Homo sapiens: one gene and its partners. The protein of the gene in region 1 interacts with the protein of each later gene in a pairwise test. Each region holds a gene or a part of one and is shown on either strand. Other genes may lie near its edges.

The links. Proteins that work in one complex are often made in the same cells at the same time.
Region 2: the proteins of BICD2 (region 1) and ARHGAP45 interact in binary tests that used the Homo sapiens proteins (3 or more experiments, as listed by UniProt).
Region 3: the proteins of BICD2 (region 1) and RAB6B interact in binary tests that used the Homo sapiens proteins (3 or more experiments, as listed by UniProt).

The regions. Positions count from the first base shown.
Region 1 is NC_000009.12:92,754,828-92,761,849, reverse strand, and holds part of BICD2 (protein bicaudal D homolog 2), read left to right. Parts: intron 1-7,022. UniProt on the Homo sapiens protein: Acts as an adapter protein linking the dynein motor complex to various cargos and converts dynein from a non-processive to a highly processive motor in the presence of dynactin.
Region 2 is NC_000019.10:1,062,729-1,070,169, forward strand, and holds the start of ARHGAP45 (rho GTPase-activating protein 45 isoform 1 precursor), read left to right. Parts: upstream 1-4,438; 5' UTR 4,439-4,677; coding exon 4,678-4,767; exon of another isoform or gene 4,768-4,844; coding exon of another isoform or gene 4,845-4,946; intron 4,947-5,685; coding exon 5,686-6,016; intron 6,017-7,441. Other genes in the region: phospholipid-transporting ATPase ABCA7, read left to right, coding at 816-950, 1,032-1,135, 1,433-1,525, 2,203-2,443, 2,542-2,697. UniProt on the Homo sapiens protein: Contains a GTPase activator for the Rho-type GTPases (RhoGAP) domain that would be able to negatively regulate the actin cytoskeleton as well as cell spreading.
Region 3 is NC_000003.12:133,823,732-133,829,901, reverse strand, and holds the end of RAB6B (ras-related protein Rab-6B), read left to right. Parts: intron 1-1,049; coding exon 1,050-1,114; 3' UTR 1,115-5,667; downstream 5,668-6,170. UniProt on the Homo sapiens protein: The small GTPases Rab are key regulators of intracellular membrane trafficking, from the formation of transport vesicles to their fusion with membranes. Rabs cycle between active GTP-bound and inactive GDP-bound states.

The DNA of each region.
Region 1 (7,022 bases):
TCATTCTGCTAGTGATTTCTTGAGCCTGACTCAGTTAAGACCATATCTGTCCCCGTTCCCACTGTGCCCTTTCCCTTCCTCTCCCTGGAATGGTGGGGAAGAGAATTAGATGGGCTTTGGTCAGCAACCTGGTGTTCCTGGTCCTGCGTGGCCGTGAGACACTTTGTTCTGTGTTCTTAGCTGTAGCTTTAAGAGGACAGGTGTGCTGAGGTGGCAGCTCCTGCCTTCAGGGCACAGGCAGGGACTGTAGCTAGGTGGGCTAAGGCTAGGTGCCCATGTGGTCCTCATGGTCAGGGGAGGGTAATGGGGGAGGTCTGAGAACAGTCTTGACTCCACCTGAGCTCAGGCTCAGAGAGGAGGTCTGGACACCCTCACTGCCTTGGTGTGCCACCTTGGTGTCATAGTGTCAAGCTCTGGAGCACCATTGTCCTTGTCTGAGAGGTGCACGTGGGTGGAATTGGGTGTTGGACTGGGCACAGCACCCAACACGCAGCAAGTGCTTCGTAGGTCTTCTGCGGACTGAATCTCATGCCTCACTCAGGTCTCTGTCTCCTTGCTGCTGCACCTGCAGCTTCTCCCCGTTCTTATCCTTGTCCCTGCTCAGTCTCAAGTGGCTTCCATTGCCACCTCCCAAGGGCTGCCCTAAGCATTGTCTCAGGCCCCTACAGCCTGGCTTGGGACTGCCCTACCTCTCCTGTGCCCACATTCACCCTTTGTCTTAGAAGTCCCACCTGCCCTTCAAGCTTGGGTGTCTCTAAAATTCCCCTGCCTGCTGCCTTCTGGACTTGCTGAGCCCTGTTCCCAGCACCTGGGCAGCTGCAGGAAGTGGGGGCAATAGGGTGATTGGCAGAGGACCCTCCAGGAGGTTCCTCTGCAGAGTTACTGGGGGTGAGGCCCAGCCTCTTTGATTGTTTGCTTCCAGAGCAGGAAAAGTCCTGGTCTTGGTTAAAGCAAGTGTGGGATTCTCCCATTCGTCTGATAACCCCTGAGAACATTGTTGTGTCCATTTCTGAACAGAAGGCTGTTGGGAGCAAGGAGGCTCTGGGAGACCCAAGGGCCTTTCAGGGGGCTGGGTGGTGGCAGTGGTCTGCTGTTGGTATGAGGAAGCCTGGCTTGGGTGGGAGCTGGGGCCCTGTGAATACCTGAAGCACAGATGGGTCTGACAGTTGGGGAGAGGCAGCTATAGGCATCCAAAGATGATGACCATGTGGCTACACTGTTGTCACTAATTGTTGGGCAATTCTCTCCCCGCTGGGCCTCTCTTTCCCCACTTTTAGAATATGGGGCAGGGGGTCATGAAGGAATCTTTAGGGACCCTTACACTTTTAAAAATGTCTGAAACTCCCACATCGAGCCCTGGTGCTGTTTCTTCCTGTAGGGCCTGGCGACTGGGCACTTGTGTATCTCAATCATCCTGGGACCTGGCCAGGGAATCTGCCCAGCCCTAGGCATGCGGATGGTGTGCTCCAGGCCAGCCCTGCCAGCATGTGGAGGCGTGGACCTGGCCACCCTCCATGGGATTCAAGGCAGGCACAGCTGTGATGGAGCAGCTCGTCTTTGGGGATGCCAAGCGAGCATGCTTTGTGGCTTAGCAGGTGGATCCAGAGGAAGGCCAGGCCCAGTGCTGGGAGCCCCTGGGCCCCTGGGGGTGCCTGGCACCACCTGAGCAGGACCGACTGTATATGATGTCTGTCCCTGTGAACTCCATACTGACTCCACAGGGGGAGTCTGGGCCCTGCCTGGTCTCCCAGGAGCTTGCGGCCCTGGATGAGCCGCTGCCTGTCTGGGCCGTGATAGGTTAATGATGATGCCTGTTACCTTGGCCCAGTGCTCTGTGAGCCCCCAAGGTCAGGGAGTGGTGTCCCTGTGCCCTTGTGTCTGAGCATCCGGCCCAGGTCCATATAGGATTCCTGCTAGGTCTCCCCTGTCACTTAGGGACCACAGTCCCTTCCTTTGAGGGAGGAGATCAGTTTCTTCTTTGTCAGTTTTGGGCATCCCCCAGTCAGTCAGACCTGCTTCCCCACATAGGTGGACCAGATGAAACTGTTACACACATCGGGGGTAAGAAAGATTTGGTTTCTTCTCAGACAGTACACCAGCTGTTTGAGGTGGTGGTGGCTGGTGGCCAGGGCTGGCCAGGACTATGCAGGCTTTGACAGGTAAAGCATTGGCCTTAGACCCTGTGTTGTCCAGTGTTCAGAGTGTGGCCTCTGAAGCCGAACTCTGGAGCAGGAGAGGGCCCAATGTGGCTGCCTAGCTGCCTCCTTGGGCTCAAACCCTGCTGTCCCAAGCTGGGCTCTGCTCTGCTGTGGGAGGTGGATGGAGAGATGGGGACTGAGTGGCAGGCAGGCTCCCCTTGCCACCCTCAGAGCATTGCAGGCCAGGGTTAGGGTTAGGAGGAGGTCACTGGGGGCCCAGCTTCTTTTTTAGAAGCTACTGTGTTTTAAAAAATCATACATTCACTTTAAGAACAGCAGAAAGTGGAGAGAACAGTGTCAATAGGACCTGTGTAGATGGCGCAGGACAAATGTGGGGAGCACTGGGTGTTTCTCTCTGCCAGCTCTTCTTCCCTTGTGAGTGTGTGATGTGTACAAGACACCATCAAACACAGGGGAAAGGCTTTGTGCATCTGTAATAGTTGTTTTTTGTTAAAGTTAGTTTGTTGCTACTCTGAGATACATAAAAGCAGGTTTAATTCAAGTAGATAAAGACAGGAAGGTTTCTGTGGATCCAGAGGTTCTGTGGTACTTCTAACTTATACTGTTGTGTTACTATATGAAATAATTGTCATGGTTTGCTTTTTATAGTTGGCTTTTTACTTTTTAATTTATTATTATTATTATTTATTTATTTTGGTAGAGTCAGGGTCTCACTGTGTTGCCCAGGCTGCTCTTGAACTCCTGGGCTTGAGCGATCCTCCCGCCTTGGCCTGCAAAGTGTTGGGATTAGAGATGTGAGCTACCACGCCTGATCTATAGTTTGCTTTTTTTTTTTTGAGACGGAGTTTCGCTTTTGTTGCCCAGGCTGGAGTGCAATGGCGCGATCTTGGCTCACCACAACCTCCGCCTCCCAGGTTCCAGCGATTCTCCTGCCTCAGCCTCCCTAGTAGCTGGGATTATAGGCATGTGCCACCATGCCCGGCTAATTTTTTTTGTATTTTTAGTAGAGATGGGGTTTCTCCATGTTGGTCAGGCTGGTCTCGAACTCCTGACCTCAGGTGATCCGCCTGCCTTGGCCTCCCAAAGTGCTGGGATTACAGGCATGAGCCACCACGCCCAGCCTTTTTTTTTTTTTTTTTGAGACGGAGTCTTGTTATGTTGCCCAGGCTGGAGTACAGTAGCTCGATCTTGGCTCACTGTAACCTCTGCTTCCCGAGTTCAAGTGATTCTCATGCCTCAGCCTCCTGAGTAGCTGGGATTACAGGTGCGCGCCACCACACCTGGCTAATTTTTGTATTTTTAGTAGAGACGAGGTTTCTCCATGTTAGCCAGGCTGGTCTCGAACTCCTGACCTCGGGTGATCTGCCTGCCTCAGCCTCCCAAAGTGCTGGGATTACAGGCGTGAGCCACTGCGCCTGGCTGCTTTACTCATTATTTACTTATTTATTTATTTATTCATATTATTATTATTATTATTATTATTATTTGAGACAGAGTCTAGCTCTGTTGCCCAGCGTGGAGTGCAGTGGCACGATCTCGACTCACTGCAAACTCTGCCTTCCAGGTTCAAGCAATTCTCCTGCCTCAGCCTCCCGAGTAGCTGGGATTACAGGAGCCCACCACCACGCCCGGCTAATTTTTGTATTTTTAGTAGAGATGAGGTTTCACCATGTTGGTCAGACTGGTCTCAAACTGTTGACCTCAGATGATCCACTCGCCTCAGCCTCCCAAAGTGCTGGGATTACAGGCGTGAGCCACCGCGCCCAGCCTTTACTCATTTTTTAAAGCCACCTTCTTTGTTGGATGTTTCCACATAATCAAAGGTGGAGAGAGTAATAGAGTGAGTCCATGTATGCTCCTGCCCTGCACCTGCAGTTTGCAGCTGTGGCCGGTCTTGTTTCTACCGCAGTTCATCCTGTGTAGCTGTGTCTGTAAGTATATCAGTTGTTTTGCTAAGAAAATAGAATCTTTTCTTTTTTTTTTTGAGATGGAGTCTCACTCTGTCACCCAGGCTGGAGTACAATGGCGCGATCTCGGCTTACTGCAAGCTCCGCCTCCTGGGTTCACACCATTCTCCTGCCTCAGCTCCCCCCCGCCCCCCCGCAGTAGCTGGGACTATAGGCGCCTGCCACCATGCCCAGCTAATAGAAAATAGAATCTTTTCTTACAAAACTTAACCATTGTTGAACTTTCACACCTAAGAAACTAACAAAAATTCTTTAGTGTCATCTGTTGTCCAGTCAGTGTTTGGATTTCCCCAGTTTGGCTCATAAATTTCATTTTACAGTTACTTTGTTTCTTCAGAAGCCAAGCAGGATCTGCAGGTTGCATTTGGTTGAAGGCCTTCTCAATTTTTTTTTTTTTTTTTTTTTTTTTTTGGAGACAGTCTCGTTCTGTCGCCCAGGCTGGAGTGCAGTGGCGTGATCTTGGCTCACTGCAATCTCTGCCTCCTGTGTTCAAGCAACTCTCCTACCTCAGCCTCCAAAGTAGCTGGGACCATAGGTGCACACTGCCACACCTGGCTAATTTTTTGTATTTTAGTAGAGGCGGGGTTTCACCATGTTGCCCGGGCTGGTCTTGAATTCCTGAGTTCAGGCAATCAGTCTGCCTCGGCCCAGCAAGGTGCTAGGATTACAGACCTTGTCATTTTAAAGACAGCGCCATGTGTGGCCTGTCCTGTCCCCTTTCATACTGCACTGGCATTAGCCCTGGCTACTCTATTTTTATGCTGTGGAGGGTGCCGGTAGGCGGAGATTCCCACTTTATCTGCCCCTGCCAGACACCTTACTCTTGTCTTTCTCTTTTATTTCCTTTTTTTTTTTTTGAGACGGAGTCTCACTCTGTTGCCCAGGCTGTAGTGCAGTGGCGCGATGTCTGCTCACTGCAACCTCTGCCTCCCGGGTTCAAGCGATTCTCCTGCCTGAGCCTCCTGAGTAGCTGGGATTACAGGCGTGCACCACCACGTCTGGCTAACTTTTGTATTTTTAGTAGAGACAGGGTTTCATCCTGTTAGGCAGGTCTTGAACTCCTGACCTCATGATCTGCCTGCCTCGGCCTCCCAAAGTGCTGGGATTACAGGCGTGAGCCACTGTGCCTGGCCTCTCTTTTCTTTTTTAAAATATTAGCCAGGGGCCGGGCGCAGTGGCTCACGCCTGTAATCCCAGCACTTTGGGAGGCTGAGGCAGGCGGATCACGAGGTCAGCAGATCGAGACCATCCTGGCTAACACGGTGAAACCCCGTCTCTACTAAAAATACAAAAAATTAGCCGGGCTTGGTGGCAGGCACCTGTAGTCCCAGCTACTTGGGAGGCTGAGGCAGGAGAATGGCATGAACCCGGGAGGCGGAGCTTGCAGTGAGCCGAGATCGTGCCACTGCACTCCAGCCTGGGCAACAGAGCGAGACTCCGTCTCAGACAAAAAAAAAAAAAAAGTAGCCAGGGTGCCTCCTTCAGCTGATGCATCATGGCTTGGCTCTTGCATTGCTGCATTGTCATCACCTATTCTGGTTCATCTGTCGCCCCAGCCTTTACTGTGGAGCTCTGCCCACCTGAGGTGATGTTGTCATCTAGTGGGTGTAGATGCCAAGCCCTTCTAAACCAGAAGGGAGGAACTAGTATTGTCACTGTCCTACCATTGAGGGTGCTGAGGTCATAGTGAGGACCACTCATACTCTTACTAGCATGGCAGTGGACTCAGCCATTCTTGGCTTGACTTCTGTGACCTGGAGCCAGTCTCTCCCCTCTCTGGGCCTCAGTTTCCTTGTTTTAGGCCAGTGCATTCCTGACGCCCTTGGAGGTGGATCAATTTCTCCCTCTAGTGACAGCATCATGGCGGGCTCAGGCCCAGGACGCAGCTGCTTTGCAGGCATGTGTTGCCTGCTGCCTGGGCTCCCCATCTGCTTTGCTCTGCCCTTCTTCCTCACACCCATGTTCCCTCAGTACCACCCTCACAACATGCTGGGGTGTAAGGGCTGGTTGATGACAAGCATGTCCATAAGCCTAGGGGATTCCTTGGGTGTCCTAAAATGTGACCTAAGATAATTATCGGGGAACATGCCCCGATATTCACGTAAGTTCTTTTCATTTTCCTTAAGTGTCGGCCAGCTTGAGAAATAAAGGGACAGAGTACAAAAGAGAGAAATTTTAAAGCTGGGCATCCGGGGGAGACATCACATGTCGGTAGGTTCCGTGATGCCCCACAAGCCGCAAAAACCAGCAAGTTTTTATTAGGGAGTTTCAAAAGGGGAGGGAGTGTGCGAATAGGTGTGGGTCACAGACATCAAGTACTTTACAAGGTAATAGAATATCATGAGGCAAGTGGAGGCAGGGCAAGATCACAGGACCACAGGACCGAGGCGAAATTAAAATTGCTAATGAAGTTTCGGGCACCATTGTTATTGATAACATCTTATCAGGAGACAGGGTTTTGAGATCAACTGGTCTGACCAAAATTTATTAGGCGGGAATTTCCTCTTCCTAATAAGCCTGGGAGCGCTATGGGAAACTGGAGTCTATCTCACCTCTGCAATCTCGACCATAAGAGACAGGTATGCCCCAGGGGGGCCAGTTCAGAGACCTACCCCTAGGTGTGCATTCTCTTTCTCAGGGACGTTCCATGCTGAGAAAAAGAATTCAGTGATATTTCTCCCATTTGCTTTTGAAAGAAGAGAAATATGGCTCTGTTCTGCCCGGCTCACCAGTGGTCAGAGTTTAAGGTTATCTCTCTTGTTCCCTGAACAATTGCTGTTATCCTGTTCTTTTTTTCAAGGTGCCCACATTTCATATTGCTCAAACACACATGCTGTACAATTTGTGCAGTTAATGCAATTATTACAGGGTCCTGAGGTGACATACATCCTTCTCA
Region 2 (7,441 bases), on another chromosome or scaffold:
GGGGGTCTTGTCTTTGCCCTGGCCCGCCCCACCCTCACACTGTCCCACCCCATGCCCTTTCTGGCCCTGCCTCATACCCATGTTGGCTCCACCCACACCATGGCCCTGCTCCATACCCATCCCAGCTCCACCCATACCAAGGCCCCACCCCATACTCATGCTGGCTCCACCCACACCATGGCCCCGCCCCATACTCATGCTGGCTCCACCCACACCATGGCCCCGCCCCATACTCATGCTGGCTCCACCCACACCATGGCCCCGCCCCATACTCATGCTGGCTCCACCCACACCATGGCCCCACCCCATACTCATGCTGTCTCCACCCACACCATGGCCCTGCCCCATACTCATGCTGGCTCTACCCACACCATGGCCCCGCCGCATACTCATGCTGGCTCCACCAGTGTGGCCCCGCCCCATACTCATGCTGGCTCCACCCACACCATGGCCCCGCCCCATACTCATGCTGGCTCCACCAGTGTGGCCCCGCCCCATACTCATGCTGTCTCCACCCACACCATGGCCCCGCCCCATACTCATGCTGGCTCCACCCACACTATGGCCCTGCCCCACACCCATCCCAGCTCCACCCACACCATGGCCCCGCCCCATACTCATGCTGGCTCCACCCACACCATGGCCCCGCCCCATACTCATGCTGCCCCCACCACACTATGTCCCATTCTCACATTTGCCCTGCCCCATGCCCATTATGCCCCTGCTCCACACTCAATGCTGGCCCCGCCACACTGTGGCCCTGCCCCATACTCATCAATATGAGTCCCCATGCCTACTCTGGCCCCACCCCACAGACCGCTGGCTCGGGCCTGGCGCGTCTGGGACTCTCATGGTACGCAGACCGGCCTGCAGGCACCTACAGCGGAGGGAACAAACGCAAGCTGGCGACGGCCCTGGCGCTGGTTGGGGACCCAGCCGTGGTGTTTCTGGTGCGTGGGAGCGGTGCCTGGGTGGGGTGGGGCCTGCGACGGAGGCGGGGCCTTGCTTATGGGATCTTCCGTGCTCCCCAGGACGAGCCGACCACAGGCATGGACCCCAGCGCGCGGCGCTTCCTTTGGAACAGCCTTTTGGCCGTGGTGCGGGAGGGCCGTTCAGTGATGCTCACCTCCCATAGGTGGGCCGGGCTCTGATGCCCTGGGCTGTGGTTAAGGTGATCCAGGCCTGGAGAGAGAGCCCCAAAGCACAAGGCCACAGGGGATGGGGGGTCCTGGCCCTAGTGGGGCGAGGGCGCCAGGCCCCGGGGTGTAAGGACACACAGAGGTGGGACGCGGCGCCGGGATCAGAACGGTCTGGGGAAGAGTGGGGAGATGTCCACACCAGAAGGGTGGCCCAGGCCGGGGGAAGCAGGCAGTGTGGCGCCAGGCACAGGTGGCCCCGGCCTCACGGAGCTCGTGGTGCCGGGTCCCGACAGCATGGAGGAGTGTGAAGCGCTCTGCTCGCGCCTGGCCATCATGGTGAATGGGCGGTTCCGCTGCCTGGGCAGCCCGCAACATCTCAAGGGCAGGTGAGCCGGCGCGGCCTCCAGGCAGGTGTGGGGTGAGGGTGGGCACGTAGGTAGGCTCAGGGGAGAGGCCAGACGTAGAGCCGGGTGAGGAAAGTTTGGCTCCAACTGGAGAGATGGCCAAGGCTTTAGATTGTCCTGCAGGGGTGACTGAGGGGGCGAGACAGGCTGGGGTGTGCTGGGGGCGCAGGACCAGGAGGCGTGAGCCGGGGGCTCTGGGTGGATTTAGAAGACACAATCAGGTGTGCGTTGGAGTAGGTGCAGCCTGGAGAGGTGAGGGTGGATTGATGGGTGGAGTTAGGGGAGGGCCTGGTTAGTGGGCGGGGCCATAGGAAAGTGGGGCGGGGGTATTTATTGTGTGGGCGGGGGTAGAGTGCAAGGGCGAAAGAGGAGTGTCCGAAAAAGGAGTCAAGTGGGGTGATAGCTTCGAGAGCAACCTGGGCAACCTAGGGAGACCCCATCTCTATAAAAAATTTAAAAATTAGCTGGACATGGTGGTGTGTGCCTGTGGTCTCAGCTACGCGGGCGGGGGGTGGCGGGGGACTGAGACGGGAGGACCACTTGATCGCTAGGGTAGTACAAGTATGGGGCGGGGCCAGAGAGTATTAGGGGCTGGAGGGTGAGCTGAGGTGGGACCTGGGAAAGGCCCGATCCGGTAGCCCTGGCCCCACTCACTGCAGATTCGCGGCGGGTCACACACTGACCCTGCGGGTGCCCGCCGCAAGGTCCCAGCCGGCAGCGGCCTTCGTGGCGGCCGAGTTCCCTGGGGCGGAGCTGCGCGAGGCACATGGAGGCCGCCTGCGCTTCCAGCTGCCGCCGGGAGGGCGCTGCGCCCTGGCGCGCGTCTTTGGAGAGCTGGCGGTGCACGGCGCAGAGCACGGCGTGGAGGACTTTTCCGTGAGCCAGACGATGCTGGAGGAGGTGATCACGGCGCCGGGGTCGGGCTGGGGGAGGCAGGCTGGGGGCCAGGCCCGTGGGCTGACCGTCCCTCTTGTCCCCTCTGGGCTGCCCACCGCTAGGTATTCTTGTACTTCTCCAAGGACCAGGGGAAGGACGAGGACACCGAAGAGCAGAAGGAGGCAGGAGTGGGAGTGGACCCCGCGCCAGGCCTGCAGCACCCCAAACGCGTCAGCCAGTTCCTCGATGACCCTAGCACTGCCGAGACTGTGCTCTGAGCCTCCCTCCCCTGCGGGGCCGCGGGGAGGCCCTGGGAATGGCAAGGGCAAGGTAGAGTGCCTAGGAGCCCTGGACTCAGGCTGGCAGAGGGGCTGGTGCCCTGGAGAAAATAAAGAGAAGGCTGGAGAGAAGCCGTGGTGGTGAAACCGTGTGCATGTGTGTCCTTGAGCCAGGCTGCACACATGTCCACACAGCTGCCTGCACATGCGTCTGGATATGGCTGGCCCCTTGCAAGCTGAGTGTGCACATACGGGCCAAGTGGCGATTCATAGGACACAGGTGTGAGCGTGCCTACAGCTGACCGGATCCCAGCTGTAAATGCCTCTGTGGCCAGCCCAGGAGTTGGGGATGTGAGTGCGGGCCTCATAAGGGCCTGGTCACACCGTCCCTGTCCCCACGTCCCTGCGTGCCTATGTGGGGCTGGCGCCTAAGGGCGGTACCTGTAAGTGCCTGGCCATAAAGTGGGGATGAGGTCAGGACTCAGGAATGTCCTGGGAAGCTTACAGGAGCCCGGTGTCCCGGAGCACAGGCCAGGGCCGGGCCAGAAGCCCATCCGACATCCAGCTGACCCTCACCCTCTGACCCCAGCCCTCAGCGCCATGAGTCGGGGGCAAAGAGTTCTCAAGGGTCTGCTGGGCTGGGTTTGCACTTGGACCTGGGCCTGGAGAGCCAGACTTGGAGCAAGGGGCTGTGGCCTTCATGTCCTGTGCCCCAGAGATCTGCCCCTCCCACCCGAGGTAGGTGGGAATGGGGTTTGGGAAAGGAAAGAGGTTGGGGTTTTGGGATTGGGGGTGGGGTTCTGGAAGGGGACAGCAGGGAGACTTGGGGAGGGGGGAGAGAGTTCACACTGCGGGGTGGGGGTTGGGGGAAGGTAGGAGGCTGGGATCTGTATGCCTGCAGATGCCCCAGCTCTTGGCCAATGCCGCCTCAGGCTGTTATCAGCAACGGGTGCCTGCGTCCTGCTGCCCAGCACGTCCGGTGGTCCAGAGTCACTGGAATGCAGCTTGGGAGGCGGGGCTGGGGACCTTAGCTAAGGGCAGGTCTGGGGCAACATGATATGGCCCACAGGGCTGCTGAGAGGTAACCAGGTGTCCTCAGCATATTCTGCCGATGGTGGGGTCCACACCACACTTTGGGGACCCCTGTGCAGGCAGCCCAGGACCAGGTGGACGTGGGGACCCAGACGGACGTGGGGACCCAGACGGACAGGGCCCGGTAACCTGGATTGTTCTGACTTCCTGGACGTCTTTGCCCCCAGGGTTTCGGTTCTGGGCCTCAGTTTCCCCACCTGTCCTCGACCTGACCCACTTCACGGGGCTGCAGGGCGGGTGATGGGGGGGACCCTACTCTGCCCGGCCCTGCTGGGGCCCGGCCACACCCTAGGGTCTGCAGGAGAGGCGGTGGAGCGGGCTTGCCTTCAGGGAAAAGGGGGCTGCAGGGGCGCAGCTTCGGCCTGTGCGTGTGTCTGGGGTCTGAGGGCGAGGCTCCAGGGGCTTGGTGGCGTCTGAGCGCGTGTGGAGGTCCGGGTCTCTGCGTGTCATCGTGCACGTGTCTGTGCACGCCCACTCGCGTCCGGGAGTGAGAGTCAGCGCCCTGCAGTCGGCCGCCCCGTGCCCGCCAGCGTCAGGCAGGGGCTCCCGGTCCCACCCCGCGAGCGGCGCGGCTCCGAGCTCCCGAAGGCGGAAGCGGGGGGCGCGGCCCGGGGCTGGGGGCGGGGCCTGCGACCTCACCTTCGCGCCCACTCCGCAGAGCCGCAGGCTGAGGCCGGGAAGGGTCGGGGGCGAGGCCGCGTCGCCGCCTCCCCGAAGCCTTTTCCTGTTGGGGGGAGGGCCCGCCAGTGACGGCCGGGCCTGTCACGTGGGCCTGACAGCTGGGGAGGGGGTGGCCGGCGACAATGTGGTCCCGAAGCGGCCAGCGCCGGGAGCTGCAGCGCTGAGACCCCCAGCCCGCCCCCTCGGGCTCCCGGCCGGGGCCCCATCATGTTCTCCAGGAAGAAACGAGAGCTCATGAAAACCCCTTCCATCTCGAAAAAGAACCGCGCGGGAAGCCCCAGCCCGCAGCCCTCGGGGGTGAGTGGAGCCCGGGTGAGACCCGGAGCTGACGCCGGGCCGCAGGGGGACAGGGACCCGCCCTGTGCTCGGGGCTCATGCTGGGGCGGCGGCTGGGGGCTCGTGCCAGCTACAGCCCCTACCGGGCGGGACGGCAGGGGCCACAGCAGAGAGGCCGGGACCCCGGCATTCAGCTCACGGTAGGGACCCTGGGAGTGGTGGCCGCCTCCCTCCACTCCATCCAGGGCTGGCCGCGGGGCCCAGGGAGCAGGAAGGGAGGGTGCCGGGTTGGGACGATGTTGTGTTTGGGCCGCTGCAGGTTGGGGGCTTAGGCAATCTGGGGGCTCTAGGGGCCGTTGAGATGGGAGGGCTGTGGCCTGGCCATTGGGCTGAAGGTTGACCGGGCAGCAGATCCTCTAATGGGATCCACCAGGTTCAGAGGTTGGGGAGTGTCCCCAGGCCTGGGGTGTCTACAAAGCTGGGGGGGGGGTCTACAGAGCTTGGGGGTCCGGGATGTCTACAAGGCCTGGGGCTGCCCATAGGCTCTGGGGTTCCATGGACCTTTAGGGGACAGACAGAGTCAGAAGTGTGTTCACTTAAAGCACCTGCGTTGTAGGAGCCTGAGGGGGGCTTGAAGGGCTGAGGACCCTCCCCACCCCCACCAGGAAGTGGGGACCCCCCTCCCGCGCCTCCCCGCAGGCCCCGCCCCGGCTGTGGTTTGGGCAAGGACCGTTGTTTGTGAAAGCTCTAGGGAAGAGGATGTTGGGTAACAGGTGGGGGGGTACACTACCAAATCTCGGCCCTGTGACCTCTGGCCTTTGACCCCTGTGGGGTCAGGGTGATGGTGGCCCTCCACAGCCCCACTTCATTTCTGGGGAAACTGAGGCCGTGTCCAGGCCGGAAAATCCCTTTAACGAGCTCCCCTCGGACCTGCCCAAGGAGCTGCCCAGGAAGGATGGGGCTGACGCGGTGTTCCCCGGACCAAGCCTGGAGCCGCCCGCTGGGTCCTCCGGCGTCAAGGCCACAGGGACCCTCAAGCGGCCCACCAGCCTGAGCCGCCACGCCAGCGCGGCTGGCTTCCCCCTGTCGGGTGCTGCCTCCTGGACACTGGGCCGGAGCCACCGGAGCCCACTGACAGCCGCCAGCCCGGGCGAGCTGCCCACCGAGGGTGCCGGCCCGGACGTCGTCGAGGACATCTCCCATCTGCTGGCGGACGTGGCCCGCTTCGCTGAGGGCCTTGAGAAACTTAAGGAGTGTGTGTTGCGTGACGGTGAGAGCCACGGGGACACCGAGGCCTGGGTGGAAGACAGAGCCAGACCCAAGGGAGGATGGAGGGAGGGACTTGGGGAGGCTCAGAAGGGAGGGAGGCTCAGATGGCAGGGAGGGCTGTGTGGAAGAGGCCATGACAGCTAAGGCTCTGAGGGATGTGTAGGAGTTTGGTGGGGGAGTCCCTGAGCGTACACTGGCTCAAGAGGGTGCCCACTTTATTTTTTTTAAAGGATCTGATGGCAATTAGGAGGGAAAGGCAGAGGAAATGTCCCATGCACAGGCTCAGAAACACGGAAACAGAGAATGCATTTGGGGGCCAAGGTGTGGGGTGCCGCTGGTGTAGGATGAAGGCATGACAACGCCAGGCAGAAGGGCAATGGGGAGCCATAGAAGGTGTTAGAGCACAGGACAGATGGGGGCAGATCTGTGTCTTGGAATGAAGCAAACTGGGGGTTGGCTGAGGTCTGGGTGGAGAGAGATTCAGGAGGCATGGCGAGGGGCAGGATGGGGTCATCAGGCGGCGGAGGTGCTGGGACCCAGCGGCCTGCAGGCCGGCAGTTCCGTTTTCTCCTCCACGCGGCCGCTGACAGCCCTGCTTCCTGCCGAGTTATTTTCATCTGCTTCCTGTTTGTCCCTGGCAGCCCAGGCGGGCACCTCATGTGCTGCCTTCAGCCCCCGGCTCCTCCCAGAAACCACAGTGCCAGGGTCATGCCAGGCGCTCTGATCTGCTCCCAGCAGCCGCCCATTTTACAGATGACGAAACTAAGTCTCTAGTGAGGCCCTGACCCCTGGCTCACCCAGCCAGGGCAGGGCAGAGCCAGGACTGGACCTCAAGTGGTGGAGTGGCCTCTGCACCTTCAGGGCACTAGTTGGGGAAGGCCCGGTCCCCACTGGGAGGAGTGGGAGCCCCCGGGTTATCTGGTCCCAGGGGCGGGGGCTAGGCTGCTTTCCTGGGGAAACCCTAATCTCGGTTCCTTTCCGATCCTGGCGCTTCCTTGGAGGCCTGGCCTGGGCGGGGCTCAGCTCCCAGGCTCCTGCAGGAGGTCTGAACTGGGCCAGCCAGGGTGGGGCACTTTTTTTTTTTTTTTTTTGATACAGGGTCTTGCTCTGTTGCCCAGGCTGGAGTCCAGTGGTGTGATTGAGGCTCACTGTTACCTTGAACTCCTGGGCTCAAGCCATCCTCCTACCTCTGCCTCCCGAGTACCTGAGACTACAGGCATGAGCCACTGCACCTGATTTATTTTATTTTATTTATTTTATTTGAGATGGTGAGATGGAGTCTCACTCTGTCGCCCAGGCTGGAGTGCAGTGGCGCGATCTCGGCTCATTGCAACCTTCCTCTCTCGGGTTCAAGTGATTCTTCTGCCTCAGGCTCCCGAGTAGCTAGGACTACAGGTGCGTGCCACCACACCTGGCTAATTTTTGT
Region 3 (6,170 bases), on another chromosome or scaffold:
GGAAAAGCAAAGAAAAGTCAGAGATAAAGTCATACTCAAAATGTATGCCATGGCCGCATGGTTGTTAGAGGTGGCCAAAAAGTTGGCTCTGAGCATCCTCACAGCCAAGGCAAGGAAAGAGAATGTGAACTTCAGGAGAAGCATGGCTTTTCATAGTACTTAAAACAAAAGAACCTCTCCTGTTGTCCTCAAATAGGAGCCACAAAAGCATCCTTAGGATGCCAGCAAGAAGTTCCAAAACAGTGTTTCTTATACCACCACACCCCACACACCCCTGTCTTAAGGCAATCCCTGTCCAGGAAGAGCAATTCTGTGAGGTATCAAAGGGCCTGATCCTCAGCTATAATTAGGTCTGGTTTGATGCAAGGCTAAAATCTCACAGTGTTGGTTTTGAGCCCGATGAGGAAGGCAGAGGGCCAGCCTGGCTGTGCATTTGGAACCAGTCCCTGTGGTGGTTCTGATAAGTGCTTCTTTAGCCCACAGCCCCCGGGGGCACCAGTGGAAAGGGCTGGCGAGGGGGCTGTGCTTAGGCCCCATGGATGTGGCTTCTTACAGTAACCATCCTCAGGATCTAAGTGATGTGTTCTGACTAAAGCTTGAAGGGTTTGCTCCTGCTGCCAATTAGGCAAGGCCCACATACCCCTGTGCTTTGAGATGTGAACCCAGCAGGCTCTTCATCTCCATTGCACTTTGAGTGGGGCTGACAGGTAACTGGGCTGAGGCCAGGGCTGGGAGCTGGCATTTGAGCACTGGTCGAGGGAAGGCTTCTGGGAAAGGGACTCCCTGGCCTTGGTATAGATGGTGATCCCACGGCCCAGGCAAGACAGGCTTTGCTTGGGTGGACAGGCGCTGGGGGAAGTGGACGGGTGAAGGGAAGAGGAGGCAAGGTGGAGTTGGTATTGCATCCTTCCTAGCCCAGCCAAACCAAGAGCCAAGTCCCTAGGTGTTTGCAGAGAAACAGAGCAGTAGCCAAAGGGTACAGTGCACAGGGCTAAGTGGGGTGGCAGCTTGTCCAGGAGAGTCATCTTCCTTAGCCCGTCCCCCTGCAGTGATCGACATCAAGCTGGACAAACCCCAGGAGCCCCCGGCCAGCGAGGGCGGCTGCTCCTGCTAATGCAGAGCCGACCTGTGGCTTCCCATGACACTCCTTGCTTGTTGTGTTGCTTCCTATTGGCTAGCTTCCTAAGGGGGGAGGGAACCGAGTTATCAAGATGGGAGGATTTTTCTTTTCTCTCTGTCTTTAGGAGTAGGGTGGGATGGGGAGGGAGGCTGGGCATCAGGGATCACATCACTCTTAACGGCTGTTACTTAAACAACTATTTTTTGGTTTGGTTGTAATATATTGTACTTTATTAAGATTGCCAAAAACTGTTAAAATTTAAAAAAAATTTAAATCATGTGTATACAATTTTTTGCCAGATAAAAATGTAGTCATTTTTATTTGAAAGATGTGCTTTTTGTTTTTGTATATTTGTAAACTTATAGAGAACCTTTTCCACACACCTCCTCCTTCCTGTTCTCTTTGAACCATTCATCACCTCTGCCTTCCTCCTATCCCCAGCCCAATAAATTAAAACAATTAACTGAGCAAATTAATTAGGCTTCAGTCTGGGGCCATCTGGCCCCACTCTCTAGGCCCTACTCCAGTTAAATCAAACATTGGTTGAACACATCAGCCTCTGAAAAGGTAGCTCTGACTCTTGTCTTTCCATGGCCAGAGTGGGTCGTCAACCTCGTGTGGAGCTGAGACCAAGGTCTGTGGGCTCTAGGCAGCCCGGCAGCAGCCCCCAGAGGAACTGCTCCCACCTCTCCTTCTCTTTCCCTGAAAAGCCTTGAAGGGGGTTGAGGGTACAGGCAACCTTGTGTTCTCTGTGCCCTCAGGGACTGGCAGAGCAAGAGGCCATCAGAAGGACGAGGTGCTGTTGGCAATTGCAGCTGCGTGGTGCGTGGTTTATAGACTGGGGTGCCATGTGTACTTCTGAAAATATTTTAACCAGCCCACCCAGCAGTCAGTACACATGCCTGGGCCAAGTCTAAGAAACTCAGTGTGTGATGTTGGGCAGTGTGCCATCCTGAAGCCTTCCTCCTGGATGTCAGGGAAGCTGGACCACCTGGAGTTGATCCTCTGTGATGGGGAGGCGGGGGGGGGGGGGGGTGTTGTCTGCAGAACCACCACCTTGAAAGATCCATGTTCTTAGAGCCTCAGCTGCTAATATTGTTGAGTGCTTTCTGGAAAAGCTGATTTGTTGCTATGTTTTCACCCCAGTGGCATGGCGCAGTTGAAGTCTTTGTGGACATATCTTTGTGGCTACTGTGGCTGCGCTGTGGTCACCTGAGGATGTGGTTCAGGTGGGGTCTCCAGAAGGCTGCTTGCCCCCAGAGAGCCATCTCTTCCATTTTTGATTCATTCCTGAGAATGGCTTAGTCCTGAGAATCTGCAAAGTCTCTGAAGAGAACTCTCTCTTCCCACTAAGTGATATAACCTACTTGGCCAGCATTCCAAATAGACTCAGACTCACTGCCCTGAGCCTGCACAGAGCCAGGTGCAATGGGCAGTGAGTCTGGCCAAAATGTAAACCCCACCCTCCCTGCTGTCATTGGCTCTCCCTCCAGGCTGCTGCTGGGCATGTCATAGATGGGATGAATGACCATCTGGGGTATGGTGGGCTGAACTCCACAAGGTCGTTGGAATGAATTTTGAAACTTCTCAGAAATTAATCTGAAATGGCAGGCAGTAAGTGCAGCAGAATCTGGCAGGACTGATATTTGTGCAGTGGGCCTGCCACACACCCTCTGCCTAGGAGGCTGTATGCCAGAGCTCATCTCTAGCAAGGAATTTATCTTCAGGTGAAGAAGAGAGGAAGCAGGATCCCACTGAGCACCTCTTGCAGAAGGCAAGGACCAATGTTTGAACGTGTTTCAGATGTCATGTGTTTAGTTTTTATATGTGTGTACATAATTATATATAGAGATAGACTTGTGTATACACCTTCCACAAACACATCCTCACGGAGATACATGTGCTCAATGTATATTCTTGTTTCTCCTGCTCTCAAGTTGGAACTTGCATTGTGATAAGTTTTGGAAATTCAAAAGTACTGCAACGTGTTGAAATAAGAAATACTTAATATTGTCAAATAACTTGTGATTGTCTTGCCATCAATAAAATAATGCATAGTTGTGTTAAACTACAGGCAAACATAGCCCACGGGAATATCTCCACCATTTCTCTATGTACTTTATATGCACGGGTGTGCATGCCTGTGTGGGCCAGTGTCCCCCCACCATGGGCACACCCCCAAGTGGTGCTTGTTGGAAGAGTGCTTACTTACCTCGAGAGAATTTACAGGAGTCCACATGACAGTGTCCTGCCTGGTTGGCAGCGGGGGCCATCACCTGTGGCCTCTGAGACCGCCCCATTTACAGGAATCTGCACTGGGTCTCAGTGAATGAACGTATGGTAGATTTTTATTTTCTTGGCACTAAAGATTAGCTTTTTTAAAAAAACATCCCATAAAACAGTAGAAACTCAGTTCCCTTCTCAGGGGCACACACATCCAAGGCACCGTGGACTGTGTTTCCATCCTGGCCTAGAGGAGCAGTAAAAGATAGCATTTGGTTTGACATGGCCTTAGTGAGTCCTGCCTTTCCTAGCATGCACACAACATCCTCTCTTTGAGTTTGGGTTCTCCCCAGCCCCTTGGCCTCTGAGGCTGAGGGTGGCTTCCTCCCATCCTCCCATCTCAGTGGTTCCATGGCGCTCCCTTCGGCACGTGCGGTTTCCGCCCCTCCCTTCCTGGGGTGTGGAAAGGCAGCCAGACCTCTTTTTCAGAAGTTGTTGGTTCCCTGATTTTTGTCTTGAGCAGGCACCATCCCTGTCCCCTTGCTTGCAGGTAGAATTGGCACAGAGTTAAGGTTCCATAATAAACTGTTAGGTGCTCTTGAAGAAGATGTCATGGCATTGCCTCAGCACCCCAGCAAGAGCATTGCATCTTTGCTGAATCCAGATGGGTTAGCAGAGGGCAAATTGGAGGATTCCTTTGAGGAAATGTTCTCAATTGAGCAATTCAGTCCCTCTCCCCAAAGACTAGACGTGACCTGGCAGATTAGCAGGATCCTCTTGGCCTTCTTTTTTGGGGATGGTGGGAGTGAAGGGGGTGAATCTTAAAAGCTTATCAACAAAGCTCCTGTTCTGCAGGCATCAGGAAAGTTGAGTGTAAGATGGAAAAAGCAAACAGCCTATTTACAAGTGGAAACACATTGGTTCTGATCACTCCTAACTTGCTGGGTGATCATACATACATCAACATGAAGGTGTGACATCAGAATCATGAGCACCATGGCTGCAGTTGTGTGATCCAAGGCTAGTTGGCTTGGTAGCTGTTGGCAGCAGTTTCCCTTGGTCAGAGGCCTCCTTGCTATCTATCGCTGCTCTCTTCTTGTCATCCTTAAACATTCAGTCATGTTCCCAGGTCTGAGGGGAGCAATGGCCAGACCAGTTTCAGTATCTCTGGCAACAGAAACAAGGATTGAAATGGTGGTAGTTAAGAGTGCAGACACATCTGGGGTGCAACGTCTGCATCATCCTGGTGGCTAGCCAGTGCGGGGAGGCCCTGCCCTGGGATACCAGTTGTGACAATAAAGGGATGGCCCTCCTGGCTTCAGCATCCTGCAGGTAGAGCAGCCTCATTCCTTCACAAGATGGAAGGCAGGTGAGGATGTCAGGATGAGATGGGACCAGGTAGCCGAGGACAGTGAGGCATGTCTGAGCCACTTGAGGGGCAGCTGAACAGAAGGATGTCTGTGTGCATCAACCGAGCAGATTGTGCGCACACTCGTTTCCGAACTGCCTCTCCCCAAAGAATGTGAGGCATTGTCACCTTGTTACAGCTATGTGAAGCAGAGCTGTCACAACTTTTCCTGTCTACAGGCAGGAAAACCAGGATGGAGAAGGGCAACTTGCTTATTAAGATCACCCAGCAAGTTAGGAGTGATCAGAACCAGTGAAGTTTCCATTTTTCATCCATTGCTGCCCTGTGTGTGAACAAATGTGACTCCATATTTATTACACAGCAAGGACTGCTGTGTGTGGGTGTGTTCCTCAGACCATCTCTACTCTTTTTGGTTAGGACACTAGGTTCTTCCCAGCATATGAGTGAGAATATTGGTGGTATTTTGGGCTCCTCTACTGCACAAGGGCCAGTCCCCAAGTCTACTCTGATTGATTGTCATGGGCACCCACACAGATCAGGACACCCTTTGAATTTTTGTTTGACATGAACTATTTAGGTGTTCCAAAACCTTGGGATCTCAATGTGCAAACTCCTTGGACTCCAGACCCCTGTCTGGTTGGCACTCCCAGCAGTGTGTGGTTTCATCAGGAAATCCTTGCAGCAGGGGTTTAGATGGTTCCTTCAGGAGGTGGGAAGCCTCCATAGCATTGAAGGCCAGCCTGCATCTCGCGGTGTGTGTCCACTTCTCCCCTCACTTTCCCCTCACCCATCCCTTTAAAGTGATTGGCTGTGAGGAGCACAGAGGGTGGCAATTCCATCTGTTATGGGCTCAGAAGACATAGCCGCCATGTTGATTTCACATTAAACTGTGTAAAATGTGGAAAAGACTCAGCATGTTGGTCAAACAATAAACTGTCCTAATTCTCAAAACAAAGCTTCTTGTCTGTGTTTAAGTGGTGCAGTCATAAATGGGGGGGTTCAAAAACAGTTCCTGAAGTGTGTGCTCCACAGAGTCCCTTTTGTCATGCCTGGGTGGTATGTCCACTACCTAAAGCCCTTTGCTGCTTTGCTTCTTCCTCCTACTGGTGGAGTTGGGCTGTCCACCAACTCCGAAGGGGTAAAGATGGGACACACTCATGAGAGTAAATCCACACGCATTCCCCTAATCTCCATTCTGCTGAAAGGCTGATGGGAAGGGAGCCTCCAGGCAGAACTGAGTCAGGGGTACGATATATTCCTTCATCCCCACTCTGCTTGCCATGGCTAGGGGATTAGGAAGGGGGGAGAGGGTACAGGGACTGGATCTCTCATGCTTCTGGTGATTTTCAGAAAGCCATTTAAAGGCAAGAACTTAAGGTGAACTATAATGACCTTTGACAACATCTAGCTGCCATATTCCATCCCCAGCCCCACACCACACCAGTTAGGAACATCCCT